Linked DNA regions of Homo sapiens: region 2 is linked to region 1. The links come from fine-mapping of genetic effects on gene expression. A gene starts in region 1. The other region holds a variant in brackets. All regions are shown on one strand. Distances are from middle to middle.

The links. PIP is the estimated chance that this variant, and not a neighbour inherited with it, causes the effect.
Region 2: its variant is fine-mapped to the expression of LINC01722 in testis (GTEx, PIP above 0.99).

The regions. Positions count from the first base shown.
Region 1 is chr20:12,947,435-12,956,962 of GRCh38, forward strand. It overlaps LINC01722 (long intergenic non-protein coding RNA 1722), which reads right to left and starts at 5,085. Exons shown (of 12, transcript NR_109868.1): 1 at 4,331-5,085; 2 at 2,966-3,052. It overlaps LINC01723 (long intergenic non-protein coding RNA 1723), which reads left to right and starts at 2,906. Exons shown (of 2, transcript NR_109870.1): 1 at 2,906-3,327; 2 at 4,017-4,193.
Region 2 is chr20:12,838,242-12,848,079 of GRCh38, forward strand. No RefSeq gene overlaps it. Among named protein-coding and RNA genes, the nearest start is that of LINC01723, 110 kb to the right of the region's middle. The variant G/A (reference allele first, on the strand shown) is at 5,236.

The DNA.
Region 1 (9,528 bases):
TCTTGGTTTTTGTTTTTGTTTTTCATCCACTAAAGCCACAGAGGTGCCTTGTCTAGTGCTCTTGTCTTTTTATGTTGAACAGGAGAACTTTACCACCTAGCTGTCAGTACTGGGCCAGATCCACCACACCTAACAGTAACAGCCCAGTTCTCAGATGCCAGGGGCTAGTGTCCTCTTTTTCAATGTGATAATCCAGGAATGCTACTATTAAGGATATGGGCTAGCAGGACTCTGAGGTGGGATGGAAGGCTCTCAGCTTCCCACAGGTGAGGAGAGAGGGTCTCAATGGACTACGTAGGGGTGGGCATCCTGCAGTTGGTGAGATCACATTGAACATTTGTAAGGAAAACCCAATGTCAGGGCACCAATGTGAAAAACATCACTCCTTACTCTGGAAGAATCCAGACTGCTTAAGGTGATAGCCGTGGCCAAAAGAGGGAACAGCTCTGAGGTCATTAATTTACCAAGCATTTTGATGATTCACTGTTACTACATTGTAGTCTCTTCCTCAGGTATAAGCCCAAATCTTCCATTTCCAGAAAAGAAACACATCACAAGTTGGGACATTGTTGAGCGATCACAGGAAACTTTCTCAATTTTTTTGTGAGGGCCAAAGGGGCCCCCAGCTTGAATAAAACCTCTTTATGGAAGTGTTTGGTGAAGGTTTTTGGAGATGGCCATCAAAGCTGAACTGATGGCTTATCTTCAAAGGACCTTCCTCAGGTGGCCACTTTCATTCTCTGTGCATGAATTCTTTCCGCAGCCCAAGCGACAATGAAAACTGCATAGGCTTTCTTATTAAGAGTGCTAATATGGAATTTCTAATGTGGAATTTGTAAAACCACTGAGTTTTGTGCAATTTCCCTTCTAATTATTAGTTTCTTTCTTTTACTTTTTATTTGTCCTGATACTTTAATTATTTCAAGTTTCTTTTTTTTCAATAGTCATTTTTAAGTACCATTCAGGATTTTATAAAAATATTAGTAATCGGGTAGTCTGTTTAAAATTCCTTAGATTTCTCTTGAGATGTTGTTTATATTCTTCTTAGTCTGCTTAGTAAACACTTCATATCCTCTCTTTAAAAAAAAGCAGATATGTCAGAAATATGATAGCAGTAATTACGTGCCCAGAACTTATTTTTTTTTTTTTGAGACCTTGCCCTGTCACCCAGGCTAGCATGCAATGGCGCAATCTCGGCTCACTTCAACCTCCACCTCCTGGGTTCAAGCAATTCTTCTGCCTCAGCCTCCCGAGTAGCTGAGATTACAGGTGCGCACCACCAAGTCCAGCTAATTTTTTGTATCTTTAGCAGAGGCGGGTTTCACCATGTTGGCCAGGCTGGTCTTGAACGCCTGGCCTCATGATCCACCCACCTTCGCCTCCCAAAGTGGTGCCCAGAACTCTTTCACTGTAAGATATGTCTGTGATGCTTCTGGGCCTGCTGTTGAAACCAGTCCCAAAGAGTTCATAATGACTAACAGAAAATCTTGATTTTGCAGAATGGCAGATGAAAAAAAACCAAGTCACTGAAACACTGAAACTCCCTCTGCTTTTGAGGTAAAAGAACTGCCTAACATTGGTTGGGACCAAGATGGCCTACTAGAACAAGCTTGCTGAAACTGCAGCCTGGATTTCCACTGCTTGTTTCATACTAACTTCTCCCAAATTTGCACATATGACTCATAAGGTAGCATGAAGAGATAACTGCACATGCCTGAGGACTTTTCAGACTCTGCTTACCTTCCACCAATCACCTGCTAACCCCAGTATCCACCCCATAAAACTTTTCTAAAAACTGCCTTGGAGCCAACACAGGAGACAGATGAGCTTGACTCCTGTCTTCTTGGTTGTTGAATTTCAGTGTAAGGCTTTTATTTTCTCAAAACCCATTGTCCTAGTATTGCCTTCTAGTGCATCAGGCAGTGAGCCCCTTTTGCTCCATAACACTGTTTCCTTCCTACGAGCAATGTCATTTACCCACATTGGGCTCTGCTGTCTTCAAAGGTTCTCCATTTGTACATTCACTTTCTGATTTTTCAAAGTTCCATGGCATCTGTTTCTTCTAATGGTTAAGAGTGGCCAGCAAGACACCTTGTCATGAAGATGTTTTGTACACCAGCCTGGGGGCCAGGGTAAATTCTGCCAAGACATCAGCCGTGTTTTTCAGGCTTCTCTCTGCAAGCCTCAAAGAATGTGCAAACCACAGCATGTTTGTGGTAGCCTCACATACTGATCCTACAGCACTTATGTCCTCCTCACTCTTCATTTTGAAGAAGGTTATCTTCAAAATGACCTTGCTGTGAAGCTCTGTTAGCTCTGATAGGGCGCATTTCTCATTGACATAGTGATTCAGAAAATGCAAGCAGCATATCAATGACTGTCATCTGGACTTCCATACCGATGGGACATATAGGGGAGGATTGACAGGTAGGCTAAAAATGCTGGGTAGAGAAGCTGGTGCCAGGAGAAATTTTTGGAAATTGAGTGGAGGATCTAAAATCCTTGCAGCCAGGAACTAAGAAAACTGGGGTTGGGACGTGGGGAGAGGGAAGCTGTAGACTATAGACTGTAGTCAGAGGCTGAGACTCAGGGCAGGATGCAGGTGAGAGTGGAGAGGCTTTCCTTAGGAGAGGACCATGGGAAATAAGTCTCCATGAAAGGGCCTTGGAGCAGGAGCCAGAACCCAATCATCACCATCCCTTCACCCCATCCCTTCAAGCCCAGCCCCTCTCTGCCGGGCTCACTCCCTGGTAACCTGGCTTTTATCAACCCCCTCTTCCTGGCTGGCCAATCCCCAGCTCCACTCCATGTGGGTCACAATCTGACCATTGTGACCTAATGCTCCCCCACCCCACTTGTGATTCCGTCACCGGAATTTCTTCTCAAGTGGTCTCTGATCCAGAGAGACACACCCAGCGGCAGCCGTTGACTCCCTCCACCCTTGCTTCCCTCTCAACCATCTCACCTCCATCTGTCCAGTGGAGCCAGATGTCCCACCTTCTTGGGAGAAATTAATTGAGGCTCATTTCCAGGACAGAGGGGCAAGCTGGGTCTGAGGAGCCAAGCAGAAAAACTTCCCAAAATCACTGGGTGGGGAGGGGTCAGAGACTTACTGCTGCCCCAGCTGTTCTGACTCTGCCCCCAGCTTTTGGCCCCACCCTTTTAAAGCACCTTCAGAGGTTCCCAATGGTGACAGTAAACAAGTCTCCACTGTCCTGGCCATCTCTGCTGTGTTCACCCTACTCCTGATCTTTCTGGCTGCTCAGGGACTGACAGCCAAGATGTGAGGCTGTGATGAGCAGGAACAGGGAGGCCTGGAGCCCCCAGGTGAGTGGAGTGGCTTGGCTTTAGGGAAGAGCAGCCTAGGTAAGTGGATATGGATGGAAGAGGCTCTGAAATTTGGGATCTGAACTTGGGGATCAAGGCAGCAGTTCTTTCTTTATAGGAACTTCCTATTAAAAAACATTTTTTTAATTTTTTTAATAAAAACAGGAAAGAGCCTTATAGGAAAGGGCTCAGTACTGTAGCCCAGGCTCTCAAAAATTATCAGTATAACTTAAGGTTTCTATGCCCAGTTACTTTTCCTATTTTAGTATAATAAAATAAAATATCTGACTCACTAGAGGAAATGCATAAAATGTGTACTCGAAGCACAAAGATAATTAATTAAAGAATCCCAGCATAGCCATCATTTGTCTTAAGAAACAGAGCAGTATTTACCTTAGCCTTCTTCTGTGGGCCCCCACCCCCTATATCAAAAAACCACCTCCTCGGTAGCCATTATGCTGAATTTTATGTTTATTTATCAATTGCTATTCTTTGTAGCTTGACTTCAACTTTCTGTACTCTTAAACAATATATTGAATAGATTTGCATGTCCATAAATTGTAAATATGGCTTTACAGTATATTATTCTCCGGGTCTTTTTTTGTGGTGCCGTATCTTGCTCCCACTGATGCACCTCCTGAATGTCTGTCATTCTCACCTATGTCTCTCCCTTTCTACCCTTCTTCTAGCCATTGTCATCACTTCCCTGATCTGCCTAAATTCTGCCCAGCAGTCCGTGAAAATGGTTTGCTGATGACATATGTAAGGACTTTAACTCCCCTCAAGCAATCTGCTCATCTCAAAGGGTAAAACATTGGCTCACTCCTAATGCAATAAATGACACATAAGGTCACAATTCAATGGTACTCTCCTTGGATACTGCTTCTTATGTGAACATCAAACTTACACTTGCTTCCTACACACTAACATATCTTGTATATTTGGAGTAAAAATTAGAGAAGTACATACAGGGATTTAAAATATAAAACATTTTTTTAGTTACCATTTCAATCTCGCTGCTTGTTATTGGTCTGTTCAGGGTATCTAATTCTTCCTGTTGTAAGATAGGAGGGTTATATCATTCCAAGGAGTTATCCACCTCCTCTAGGTTTTCTAGTTCATGCGCATGAAAGTGTTCATCGTAGCCTTGAATGATCTTTTGTATTTCTGTGGTGTCAGTTGTAATATCTCCCATTTCATTTCTGATTGAGTTTATTGGGATTTTCTGTCTTCTTGGTTAATTTTGCTAATGTTCAATCAGTTTTATTTATCTATTTTATTTATTAAGCTGGTTTCAAGAACAAGCTTTTTGTTTCATTTATCTTTTGTATTGTTTTTCGTTGTTATTTCAATTTCATTTAGTTCTGCACTGATCTTGTTTATTTCCTTTTTCTTGCTGGGTTTGGGTTTGGTTTGTTCTTGTTTCTCCAGTTCTTTGAGGTGTGAACTTAGGTTGTCCGTTTATGCTCTTTCAGATTTTTTGATGTTGGCATTTAGAGCTGTGAACTTTCCTCTTAGCACTGCCTTTGCTGTATTCCAGAGGTTTTGATAGGTTGTGTCACTATTTGCATTCAGTTTGAAGAATTCTTTAATTCCCATCTTGATTTCATACTTGACCCAGTGATCATTTAGGAGCAGGTTATTTAATTTCCATGTATTTTCATGGTTTTGAAGGTTCCTTTCGGAGTGGATTTCCAGTTTTATTCCACTGTGGTCTGATAGAGTACTTTATATAATTTCAATTCCCTTAAATTTACTGAGGCTCATTTTGTGGCCTATCATAAGGTCTATCTTAGAGAAAGTTCCATATGCTGATGATTATAATGTATATTCTGTAGTTGTTGGGTAGAATGTTCTGTAAATATCTGTTAAGTCCATTTGCTCTAGGGTATAGTTTAAATCCATTGTTTCTTTGCTAACTTTCTGTCTTGATGACCTGTCTAGTGTCGTCAGTGGAGTATTGAAGTCCCCCACTATTATTGTTTTGCTGTCTATTTCATTTGTTAGATCTAGTAGTAATTGTTTTATAAACTTGGGAGCTCCAGTATTAGGTGCATATATATTTAGGATTGTGATATTTTCCTGTTGAACAGGCCTTTTATCATTATATAATGTCTCCCTTTGTCTTTCTTAACTGCTGTTGCTTTAAAGTTTCTTTTGTCTGATATAAGAATAGCTACTCTTGCTCGCTTTTGGTCTCCATCTGCATGGAATCTCTTTTTCCACCCCTTTACCTTAAGTTAATGTGAGTCCTTAAGTGTTAGGTGAGTCTCTTTTTTTTTTAATTTTTAAATTATTATTATTATTATTATTATTATACTTTAAGTTTTAGGGTACATGTGCACAATGTGCAGGTTTGTTACATATGTATACATGTGCCATGCTGGTGTGCTGCACCCATTAACTCTTCATTTAGCATTAGGTATGTCTCCTAATGCTATCCCTCCCCCCTCCCCCCACCCCACAACAGTCCCCAGAGTGTGATGTTCCCCTTCCTGTGTCCATGTGTTCTCATTGTTCAATTCCCACCTATGAGTGAGAACATGTGGTGTTTGCTTTTTTGTCCTTGCAATACTTTACTGAGAATGATGATTTCCAATTTCATCCATGTCCCTACAAAGGACATGAACTCCTCGTTTTTTATGGCTGCATAGTATTCCATGGTGTATATGTGCCACATTTTCTTAATCCAGTCTATCATTGTTGGACATTTGGGTTGGTTCCAAGTCTTTGCTATTGTGAATAGTGCCTCAATAAACATACGTGTGCATGTGTCTTTATAGCAGCATGATTTATAGTCCTTTGGGTATATACCCAGTAATGGGATTGCTGGGTCAAATGGTATTTCTAGTTCTAGATCCCTGAGGAATTGCCACACTGACTTCCACAATGGTTGAACTAGTTTACAGTCCCACCAACAGTGTAAAAGTGTTCCTATTTCTCCACATCCTCTCCAGCACCTGTTGTTTCCTGACTTTTTAATGATTGCCATTCTAACTGGTGTGAGGTGGTATCTCATTGTGGTTTTGATTTGCATTTCTCTGATGAGGTGAGTCTCTTGAAGGCAGCAAATAGCTGGTGAATTCTTATCCATTCTGCAATTCTGTATCTTTTAAGTGGAGCATTTAGGCCATCTAAATTAAATATTAGTATTGAAATGTGAGATACTGTTCCATTCATAGTGCTATTTGTTGTACGTATATGCAATTCTCATCAAAATACCACCATCATTCTTCACAGAACTACAAAATCAATTCTAAAATTTATATGGAAGCAAAAAAGAGCCCGCATAACCAAAGCAAAAAGAACAAATCTGGAGGCATCACATTACCTGATTTCAAACTATACTATAAGGCCATAGTCACCAAAATATCATGGTACTGATATAAAGCTAGGCACATAGACCAATGGAACAGAACAGAGAACCCAGAAATAAACCCAAATACTTACAGCCAACTGATCTTTGACAAAGCAAAAAAAGACATAAAGTGGGGGAAAGGACACCCTATTCAACAAATGGTGCTGGGATAATTGGCAAGCCACATGTAGGAGAATGAAACTGGATCATCATCTCTTACCTTATACAAAAATCAACTCAAGATGGATCAAGGACTTAAATATAAGATGTGAAAAAATTCCAGCAGATGACATCAGAAAAACTCTTCTAGATATTAGCTTAGGCAAGGATTTCATGACCAAGAACCAAACAGCAAATGTAATATAAACAAAGATAAGCAACTGGGACTTGATTAAACTAAAGAGCTTTTGCATAGCAAAAGGAACAATCAGCAGAGTAAACAGAAAACTGACAGAGTGGGAGAAAATCTTCACAATCAATACATCTGGCAAAGGACTAATATCCAGAATCTAAAATGAACTCAAACAAATTAGCAAGAAGTAAACAAACAATCCCATCAAAAAGTGGGATAAGGACATGCATAGACAATTCTCAAAAGAAGACATACAAATGGCCAACAAACATATAAAAAATGCTCAACATCACTAATGATCAGGGAAATGCAAATCAAAACCACAAAGTGATACTACTTCACTCCTCCAAGAATGACCATCATCAAAAAATTTAAAAAAAAAAAAAAGATGTTGGCATGGATGCAATGAAAAGGGAACACTTCTACACTGCTTGTGGGAATGTAAACTAGTACAACCACTATGATAAAAACAGTATGGAGATTCCTTAAGGAACTAAAAGTAGAACTACTATTTGATATAGCTATCCCACTACTGAGTATCTACCCAGAAGAAAAGAAGCCATTATACAAAAAAGATACTTGCTCATGCATGTATATAATAGCACAATTCACAATTGTAAAAATGTGGGACCAACCCAAATGCCCATCAATCAATGAGTGAATAAAGAAACTGTGGTGCCTAGATATGTGTGTATATATATGTGTGTGTATATACATATATATATGCTACAGTTTCTGTGGCACATACACACACACAATGGAATACTACTCAGCCATAAAAAGAAATGAATTAATGGTATTTGAAGCAAACTGAAAGAGATTGGAGACTATTATTCTCAGTGAAGTAGGTCAGGAATGGAAAACCAAACATCGCATTTTCTCACTCATAAGTGGGAGCTAAGCTATGAGGATACAAAGGCATAAGAATGACACAATGGACTTTAGGAACTCAAGGGAAAAAGGTGGGAAGGGGGTGAGGGAGAAAAAACTACTAATTGGGTGCATTGTACACTGCTCTCACGTGATAGGTGCACCAAAATCTCAGAAATCACCAATAAAAAACTTACCCATGTAACCAAACATCACCTGTCCCCCAATAACCAACGGAAATAAAAAATTTTAAAAATAATAAATAAAACTGTCTGCTCTTCAGTAAGTTGTGTTTGCATTAAGAGAATATCTAGAAACCACCTACGGGAAGCAAGCATAGGCCACTTGGAAGAAGTTTCAAGAAGGAGAGCTGACCCCACCTTTGTACGCTGGCAGCACAAGGAGCCCTCAGTAAGTGTTACCCTTCCTTATCATGTGCTAAATGTTTAAGGCTTTGAGTCAGACAACTTCAAGATTGGTGATCTCTGTCAACCTCATGGCTTTGTCTAGAGGGTCAACTGAGAAAAGCAACAACGAGTTGGTGCATTTTTCAAGAGTCATGCAAGTAGTGTTGTCTTCCCTCTCTCTTTAGGCTTTGATGCTTTAGTCTTTACATTTACTGTAACACTGATCATGATCTGTTGTTTATTCAAGTTATTTAGGCTGATGCTGCTAAAGCTAACTGTATTAAGGACCATTTTTAAAATTTCCAGTCCTTTTCAAGTAAATATTTTTGTAAAAGAAAAATTTTTTAAAATTACTGAAAAGAGGAAATGCGAAAATTATACACATTAGAAGTCAAAAGTGTTTACTGATAAATTTAGAAAATGTAAAACTAAATTTAAATACATATATCAGGACAGATATATGGAAGAAAAATAATTTCAGAAACTGTACTTGGTGTTTGCTGAATGTGTGCATTGGGGAATGAGTGTGGAAAAGAGCAACTCAAGCTGTGTTTTTCCTCTCTTCTCTCAACAACAACAATCAACACAGAAGACTTCTGCCACCAAATATGTGCAGGTTTCTCTCCATACCCCAAGCTAGCAATTGATTCTGCAGTGGAAACCACCTGGGTGTCTCCAATTTAATTTAGTTCTGACACTATCTACCTGGGGATAGCCTCAGAAACCACAGGTTGAGGGCTCAGTCCCACAAGAACACCCCCTTCTTCTAACCAGTTGAAACTCCACACCTCCAGAACTTCTCACTGACTGGCTTCAAGCTGTGTTTCCCACAAACCCCTGTTTGAGTTTGACTAATTTGCTAGAGCAGTTCACAGAACACAAGGAAATACTCATGTTAATCAATGTATAACAAAGGATGTTTTAAAGGATCCAAATGAAAAATCAGATGAAGAGATATATACTGTGAGGCCTGGAAGAGCACAGGAGCTCCTGTCCCCATGGAGTTGGGGTGTGTCACCCTCCGGGCACATGGACAAGTTCTCCTTCACCTGCCTGTCAGCCTCCACATGTTCAGCTCTCCAGAAGCTCTACACACCCTGTCCTCTTAGGCATTTTATGAGGACTCCATTGGATAGGCATGACTGACATATGTGTAGAAATGTGATTGGATCAAAGGGTATGATCTATAATATCTATTATAATGCTGATAGACT
Region 2 (9,838 bases), 110 kb before region 1:
TATCTCTGGGTCCTCTCCAAGGATGGCCAACCTGGGTGTCTACACTCATCTCTGGACAGCTCACTTTCCAATTCCCTGGTTAATGCTTAGAAAGAAAGTAACCCTACAATCTTCCCCACTGGGCGATTTGAACCCGAAATAATTTCCTTGAGTGCAGAAATCCAAACTTCATCTTGCCCGACAGGTGTCCCTGCAGCCTGTGTGATTCTTCCACCAGTAGGGGGCACACTCTCTCACAAGGCAGCCTCTTCCATCACCAGAAAGTCTTCCTTATTCTGTAGCTCTGGCATGATCATAAAATCTGCATCCCCATGACTTCCATCATGCTCCCCTCTGTTGCCCTCTGGCCCATTGCTCCCTCCTGGGCCTGTCCTAGACTCCAGTTCCACCTCTGTAGTGTCACTCAGCCATATCCACAAGTGCCTTGGACCAGACATTGTTTTCACAGCATGGTAGGGGATGGGTAGATTTTTCTTTCATTCAGTCTCTACAGATGCTTTACAGATGAGCTCAATGAGGCTCAGAAAGGTTAAGTAACTGGGCCAGGATCATAGACTGACTAGTGAGAGAAGTGAGGTTCAAACACAGATTATCTGACTCCAATATAACCCACTGAGTATCTGGGGTGGGGGTGTGGTGTGGGTGGTGTGCATGTGTATGTATGAGTGTGAGTGTGCATGCATGCATAGTGTGCATGTGTGTGTATGTGTATGTGTGTATGTGGCTTCTCACTATCCCCCACACTACCACCCCCAAGTCCATTGAGTATCTCTCCATTTTCCACACCTATCCCTGACTACCTCATGCAATGAGATTAACCTCCACATCGGCAGCCCTTGAATCTTTCACCTTCCCCCAGCATCAAAATACACTTCTTTGGGGTCTCAGCCTCCAGAGTCTGTGCCTGCCCACCAAAAGGGCAATGGGTTCTCCCAATGAAGCAATGAAGGCCTGTGTGATAAATGACTGTGATTTCTCTCCAGGTTTTAACTTACCCTCAGATAATGCCTTCATGCAGAGACACAGCTGGGGTGGGAATTTCTGTCACTGGAGTAGGTGTAGGAGAATTGGGGGTTCCTTTGGAGATTTGTGGTGCAACCCAAATAACATCATATAACACATCCCACCTACTCAACCTATAGGCTGAGATCCCACTTAAAGGGATGGTAGTTTGCCCTAAGGAGCCACAGCTACCAGGCTGCAATGAAGCCCTGAATGCCCTCAGTGCACTGGGGTATACATTAGAGCCCCCCTGCCATGATGTTTGGGATTCAGTGTGCCCCTTCTTTTTAAGTCACAAAACAGTCCCATCCCTGCTCTTGTAGATTCCCCAGACAGATATCACAGACCAGTTGTTTCCTGACAGAATTTTCCTCCTCCTTGGAAATCAGTGCAGAAGGGAAGAAGCAGAGCTATTTCCATAAGACAGTGCTTGTTTTTGTGAAAAAGAGTAAGGAGTTTTAGTCACACAGGGGCCTGTTCAAAGCTGGGCTCTGTCTTAAACTAATGGGACAATGTGCTAGTTTCTCAAACTCTGAGTCTAAAGTCCCATGTATAAAAGAGAATAACCCTCACCAGCTCACAGGTTGCTATGAGGATTAAATGTTATGATACCTATGGATGTTCCATGCATGCTGTAATACTCAAAGTTGCTTTTCTTTTCCTGTTATAAAAGCAAGTCCCCACTTTCCTTCTGGTACAGAAAGAAAGGGCATTTCAAAATTAAGGGTTCTCTCTCTCTCTCTCTCATATTTTTAAAAGTAATGTATGAGACAGGAATACAGTCCTTCCTTGGCAGAGACAGCTAGTGACAGCCATGTGTTTTATCAGGGCAAAGAACTCCCCAGTTTCCCAGGCATGTTCTTTACATTGTTCTTAACTGTTGTTCATTTTTGTGCTGTATCTTCCAGTTCACAATCTACCAGACTCCATGGCAAAATCTGCCTTCACTCCTGCCAAAAATGATCATTTTCTCCTTCTTTGCTTCCCAATCGACTTTCCTATTCATTCCTGATGTCACTTGAAAACTTAGCTGCCCTCCCTCATCTATGAGTCTTAAGTTCAGCCTCCTACTGCTATGATTTTTCTTCAGCATCTGGGTTGCTTAACTTACTGCTGCCAGGGGGGATACAGATGTGCAGCAGATGCCAGGCTAAGTGGAAAGAGTGTGTCAAATGGAAAATGTATTCAGGTTGCCGTATGGATGGTAGAATGCTGGTTTTTTTCCAGACCTCTGGCTCTGGAACTTTGCAGAAAGTTAAGATTTTTTGAACATCTTATTGAAGCATAACATACAAGCAGAAAAAAATATGTATATATCACAAATGTGATATATATCATATATGATATATATCATAGCTTGATGAATTTTCAGTCTAAGCACACGTGTGTAACCACTATCCAAACCAAGTAAGAAAACATGACTAGAGCTCTATTCACCCACCACTGTCATTTCCCCAAGGATAAGCACTATTCTGACTTCTTAACAAAATACTTTCCATCATCAGTATATGCAGGGAATTGGCTCCAGGACTCCAGGGAATATCAAACTCCACATGTACCCAAGTCCTGCAGTCAGCTTTGCAGAACACACCTATACAAAAAGTTGACCTTCTGTACACATGGGGTTGGCATCCCAGGAATACCGTATTTTTATCTGCATTTGTTTGAAAAAAAAATCTATTGTATAAGTTGACCCATGCAGTTCAAACCTGTGTTGTTTAAGGGTAAACTGTAAATTTGTTTTTGAATTTTGTATGAATAAAATTCTCCATGATATACTCTGTTCTGTCTGGCTTCTTTCACTGAATATTATGTTTGTAAGATATAGTCATACTGCTGCATGTCATAGTTGTTCATATTTTCTCATTGCTGCGTGTAGTTCTATTGTATAAATATGCCACTATCCATTTCATCGTTAAAAAACATTTGGAATATCTCCAGAGTGAGGCTTTTAAGAAAAGCTCTGCTACGAAGATTCTTGTGCACGTCTTATATTGCATATGTGTGTTCTCTTGGGTACATACCTAGAAGTAGAATTGCTGGATTATAGGGTATCCATATACTAAACTTTAGTAAACTACCAGTTTCCAAAATGGTTAGACCATTTTATGCTCCCACCATCATAGGATGAGAGTTTCAGATGCTCTGTGTCCTCATCAACACCTGGTATTGTCTATGGTGTTTTGATTTTGCCTTATCTTCTTATTTGTTTTTTGGCATTCTAGTGGATGTGTAATTGTACCTCGTTATGGTTTTATTTGGCATTTTCCAAATGATGAATGAAGTTGAGCACATTTTACACATATTTATTGGCCATTTGTGTATCCCTTTTGTAAAGTGCCTATTAAAGTGTTTCATATATTTTTAAACTTTTTAATACTGTATTTTTAAAGTTTTTTATTAATTAAAAGATTTAAGTTTTTATGTAAGACTAGAATTGGAGAGTTGGTCACACTTTAATGGACTTTTCTATCACTTGTCCTGATTTTATAATAACTATAAATGTCTCCAGTTATCCCTAATGGCATCTCAAATTGTCAGAAATTTCTCCAAGCAATTTACTTTTATTCAAATGTGCACTCTATAGCACTTTTAGAAACCATGGATGGATATTCAGAAACCTAGTTTTTGTTATTTTATTTTACTGAATAGCTCTGTGACCACAGGCAAAGATTTCATTCTTCTTTAGTCTTAGTATCCCCACCTGAAAAATGAAAAGGCTGAATTTGAGATCGTCCATCTCTAATATTCTATAACATACTAATAAGTACGTTACTTGGAAGGGCAAGGAACAGGGTAAAAGAGATACTATGAAACTTAAAGAATTCCCATAAGCTTGGTAACCCTTGCTCTTGAATGAAAAATCTGCAAAACATTCTAAACCTCAATTTCAAAATTTCTTCCATCTTCTTTCATGTCTTAAATTTTACCCAAATTGTGTTTTCCACGCTAGGAGAAATATTGTATCAAAGCTCTAGTTATCCTTCTCTTCTTCAAAATTTTTTTCTTTACTGCAAACAGTAACTGGATCAGAATTGCCACTCTCCTCAAAATAAAGCAGCTCAGTATGGTTTGGTTTTGTTTTGGGGTGTGTGTGTGTGTGTGTGTGTGTGTGTGCGCGCCTGAAATGGAGGCAAAGAAAAAAAAATAAAACACTTATCTTGCATGACCTAACCATAGAACCCTGGACCAGCCTACTGCACCTATCCTACTTTCTATATACTTTTGCTTCCTTGAACAGATCCTTCTAAGCACTCAAAAGTAAAATGGGTGTCACTAACCTGAAATCCACAGTCCACATTTTCTCTCTCCCCTTCCTCAATAGTGGCTTAACTTCAGCTGCCCGATGGTGAACTGTTGTATCCCCACCTTAACTGGAAGATTTTACAAAATAGCATTTAAAAAGTCTTTACAACTTCAGTGAAATGAAAGATTTCATATAACAAGACACAAAATGCCATAAGCATAGGGGAAGTGATTAATAAATTAGACAATGTTTAAAAGAAGAAGCACGTTCATCAAAAGACACCATCAGAGAAAGAAAAGGCAAAGCATAGAGGGAAAAGGATATTTGATACATGGATAACCAACAAAGGACTTGTGGCTAGATTATTGTTTTCTAAAACCTTACAAATCAGTGAGAAAAGATAGACAACCCAATAGAGAATAAGCAGGACCTGTGAACAAACACTTTAAAAAGAAGATAAATAAACTTATAAACAGATGCACCCTCGGTAGTAATCAGGGAAATGCATATTAATACCTCCGTGAGATGCTACTATATGGACACCAGACTCATCATTACTTAAACATGCAAAAATATTGAATGTTGGAGAGGGTATGGAACAATGTAAATTCTTATACTTGCTAGTGGGAGTGTAAATTGGGACATCTACCTTTTTACGGGCAGTAAGACACAGTCTAATAGAATTAAAGATATATATAATCTGTGTGTGACTCAGTAATTGTACTGCTAACGCATAGCCTACAGAATTGCATACATATGTGCATCAAGATACATGTACTAATTTATAAGTGCATCATTCACAAGAGCAAAAAGCAAGAAACAATCTAAATATCAATCAATGGTATGAGGTTTAGATAAATTATTATATATTCATCCAGTAGAATACTGTAAGTAATGAAAATGAATGACTACAGCTATACAGAATGAGTTGAATGAACCTTCAAAACCCCATGTCAATAAAGGAAACCAAATGCAAAACAATACAT[G/A]CCATTTGATTCAATCAATATAAAGTTCAAAAAAAGGCAAAACTTCTGGGCATAGTGTCTCATGCCTGGAATTCCAGCACTTTGGGAGGCCAAGCCAGGCAGATCACCTTAGGTCAGGAGTTCAGTTGGAGACCAGCCTGGCCAACAAGGTGAAACCCCATCTTTACTAAAAATACAAAAATTAGCTGGGCGTAGTGGCAGGTGCCTGTAATCCCAGCTACTCAGGGGGCTGAGGCAGGAGAATCTCTTGTAGCTGGGCATAGTGGCAGGTGCCTGTAATCCCAGCTACTCAGGGGGCTGAGGCAGGAGAATCTCTTGTAGCTGGGCATAGTGGCAGGTGCCTGTAATCCCAGCTACTCAAGAGGCTGAGGCAGGAGAATCTCTTGAATCTGGGAGGCGGAGGTAGCAGTGAGCTGAGATTGCACCAGTGTACTCCAGCATGGGCAACAGAGCAAGACTCTGTCAAAAAAAAAAAAAGGCAAAACTAAACTATATTATTTGTGGATTATTAAAAATATAAAGAAAAGCATATAAATGATTGCTTTAACCCTAGAATAGAGGTTACCTCTAGGGGAAGGAGGAAGAGAGATGTGTACTCACAGTTTCTGGTTTGCTGATAGCATTCTGATTCTTGATGTGGTGGTAGTTCACAGATGTAACCTTCACAACAAATTCTTACACAATATAATGATGTTTTAGGAAATTTTTGATATATGCTTTATTTTACAATATAAAAATAAAATAATGTGTGTCAATACCTGGCACATAGTAAATGCTCAATACATAATCAATTATTATCATAAATATATAATAATTGTATTTTTAAAGTACTTTGCATTTTACAAAGTGTTTTTCATGAAAAACAGGCATTGTTATTATTCCTGTTTCACAGATGAAAAACTAAGGCTTATTCTTGCCACAACGCAGCTAACCAAGAAGGAACACAGCTGGAAGCACAGCTCGGGTCTGCTGCTTTCAAATCCCATCTCTCTTCTAGGCTTTCCTACCTGCCATGTTGTTTAACCAAGGAAAATGAGCCAACAGCCTGATATGCAAAATCTCATTCATAACAGTGTTTGTTTAGCTGTGTGACTTGAGTCAAATGTCCGTGTGTGTGTGTGTGTAAGCCTTGGTTTTCCCTTGGGTCAAAGGTGTATGCAGGCTTCCTATTTGCTATAGAACCCAAAGTGACAGAAACAAACACATGTTGTGAGGTATAAAATGCTAAACATACTCAGTGAGTGCTGCTTTGATGTGCTTTTATCTATACTTTGAGTCTGAGCTTATTTTAATACTCAGTGTAAAACCAACATTGATGTTAACAGTTTCTCACTCTTCCTCCCAATGCTCCCACCTATCCACCACCAAAAGAAATAAATAATAAGGAGCCTGGTCTAATTGATGAGTTGAACATCAGGACCAATTATAACCAGACTGCACAGGACCAACACAGCCAAGTGTAACTGTAAACAATAGAAAGCATACATCTTTTCCTCACTGAAAGTTGATAAAAAGCATTTTCCCATTACATCCGTTGGAGAGAAGTTAAAGTGCACAAACTGGGAAATTAAGCTTATTTTCAGGCTGTTTTAACCGAAAACAATCTCTAGGCCTATCTCACATGTCTTCTGACAGGAGGGCATCCACTAGGAAGATTACGTCTATTATCAAGGTGAGCAATGAACTTTCCATTTACATTAGACTTTTATAATCTGATGAAAGAAAGGTACATTTATCTAGTCTTTTAAAAAGGAAAAGGAAACCCTACAAATCTGTCCATTATACCTGCCGAGAATCTAAAGTGAGGTCAAGACAAAAGCAGATTACTTTTGATAGTGTTAATAAGAGTTTATTGCAAGGCCTGTGAGCCAGATCTCCCTCTGTGGATTTCTGAATGGCTTTAGGAGCTGGGCTATTCTTAGAGTAATGAGAAAGAGCCTTATCTCACTCTATAGGAAATTCAAAGATCCCCATGGCTTCAGAAGCCTTACTGATGCACTTTAGCAAAACTGAAAGCTAGGGTGGTTACTATCACAAATTCATGTACAATATTAGGGATATAAAAAACCCTAAGAGGCATAGGCATGCAGTTCCCAATATGGTATATTAATAACAGCACCCCATAAAACCCTAATGGGACTGTGGCTGTTGCTATGACTAAATTTCGTTTTGAGGCAGTATTAGCAGTAGTATTATTAGTAAGTTAGGGTTATTGGTTTTCAGTATCAGACACTGACTCTAATTTAGATAACAGGGAATATATTGGAAAATTATTGAGGGCTCAAAGAATTAGTGAGTGGTTGGGTTTGGGAAGAAGTGGGAACCAAGAGAGTGACAGAGAACAGGACTCAGGCAGCAAAGCAACAGTCTCCTTGTCTATTGCAATAAGAAAACCCTAGTCAGGTAGGGTACCATCTTTATTATGTACGACCTATAGTCACTGTGTTCTTGGGTGACTGGATCAAGGTGTGAAGTTCTAGGAAAGATCATCTGATTGGCTAAGCTCAGATCATAGGTAACCTCCCTTCCCACAAAATAAACTTATATAGGGGACAAAAGCAGATGGAATATGACCCATTTCAGCTTCAGCAGTGGGCATGGAGTACCTGAAAATTTCTCTGCCACCAAGGCTACATAAGACGTCTCACTGAAAGTTCACTAAAGCCTCGATTTTTTGTCTGACTCAAATCCTCAGATAAAAAAGTCTTGAAAAAGACCTTGATTGCCGTTCCTGGAAGAGACACACTAACTGTCCCTATGTCTGTCCCTCAGTTCCCAGTCTCACATTCTTCACTAAATATAAACATACTTTATTTTTACTCTTAGATAATGAATGTTTTGAGGGCAGAGCATGCATCTTCATAAGAAGCCCAGGAGATGCTTGGCTTGTGAATGTTTTCTCTGAATTGCTGGTGAGTGGAAACAGTGGGTCCCCACTGGACTTTTGCCAGGCACTGCTTCAGAAGGCTTCCCCAGACTGATGAAAGGATGCACATGGATGGCCCGGGGCCCAGCCCGTGGTTGGGATCACGGGTTGTTTAGTGTTAAAATCCAGTTTTTATGCACTGGCGCATGAAGGAAAAATGAATCATTTAACCCCCTCAACCCCTCTTTGTCCCCTCAGCTCGTGACTCCATCCACCACCATCAAGATTGAGAGCACTACATAATGATGGGAGTGCCTGAAGCCACGTCTAAGGGTTTGCTTTAGGCTTCATCCTCTTTGTACTTCTGTCCCATTATCATCATCATCATCATCATCATCACTAAATGGTTTTCTTCTTCTTAAAGACATGCAGCAAGCACTCAATTAATGTCCACTATGAACAACATTCTATGCCAGATACTAGGCTAAGCATTTTAACATGAATTATCCAATTTAATCCTCATAATGACTACATTAGGCAAGAACTCCTACCATTTGTGACTGGTTTGACAGAGGAGCCCAGCTTTTTCTTGTTTTTCACTATCTGCTTTTTTGGAGAGGTATGGCAGAGTGAGGATAGAAAGTGCAAATTCAGGAGCCAGCTTGAGTTCCAATCTCACTCCCAGTGCTTACTCTCTATGTGACCTTGGATCAGATACTTAACTTCTCTGTGCTTCAGCTTGTTCTTCTATAAATGGAGATAGTAATAGTTCATACTTTATAACAGTATGTGTTAAATGAGCAAAAGCACTCAGAAAATTCCCAGTGTATTACAAGTATTCAATAAATGTTTAGAGTGGCCATGTCAACCTTCCTCACATCTACTTAACTCCACACCTCATGCCCCAGTCTCCCCTATCCTGAAAAGATTCCGATGGCCTGTAACTGCAACCCAGTTCTGGCCAGTAGAGACCAAAATGGGTTTGTGAAGTAGCCCATCTCATCAGGAAAGCCCGTATTCACTTTCACCTTCACAAAAAGCACAAGGAAATCCCTTAGGATGTTTCAGATGTCCTCTCCATAACATTACAGTATTTTTGTTCATTCTCCCTCGTCAGCACCTGTCTAGAGAATGGCTATTTTCGATTACAGATTTGATGTCTTAAGCTTGCTTTATTTACTTTTTATTATAAATTTGACTGCTTAGGATTTTCTGTTCTTAATTTCAGACATTTATATCTCATTTTCTTTATGAGAAAATCTAGGAATTATAGGTTTAATGCCATGGTAAGTAATATTAAAATAAATAGCAAGGCATGAATTGGTAAATTAAAACATCTAATAATTGGATTGGAGAAATACAAAAACTCTGGATTCAGTGAACCAGCACCAGTCTAATTTAAATGTCTAATTAAAAGTTATTTGGAGGCACAGCATACACGAACTGCATTGCTGTCTTCAATGACTGGGAATGAAGCTTGGTAACCAGAAGAAAAATTGGAATTGCATGAAGAAATGGGAATGGAGTGTAATATTTAATCAGAGTACTCCATTTTTATCAAGGCCTGTCCGACTCTACATTCCATTACCACTTCATTAAAAAATATGCTGTCCCCGGTGCTGAAACTGCTGTACTTGTTTAACAGCAGAGCAACCAAGCTTCAAGCCAGAAAAGGAAGTAGCAATGCCCCAGATGGAGGCAGGAGCTTTTGTTAGCTAAAGCACTATTTATCCAAAG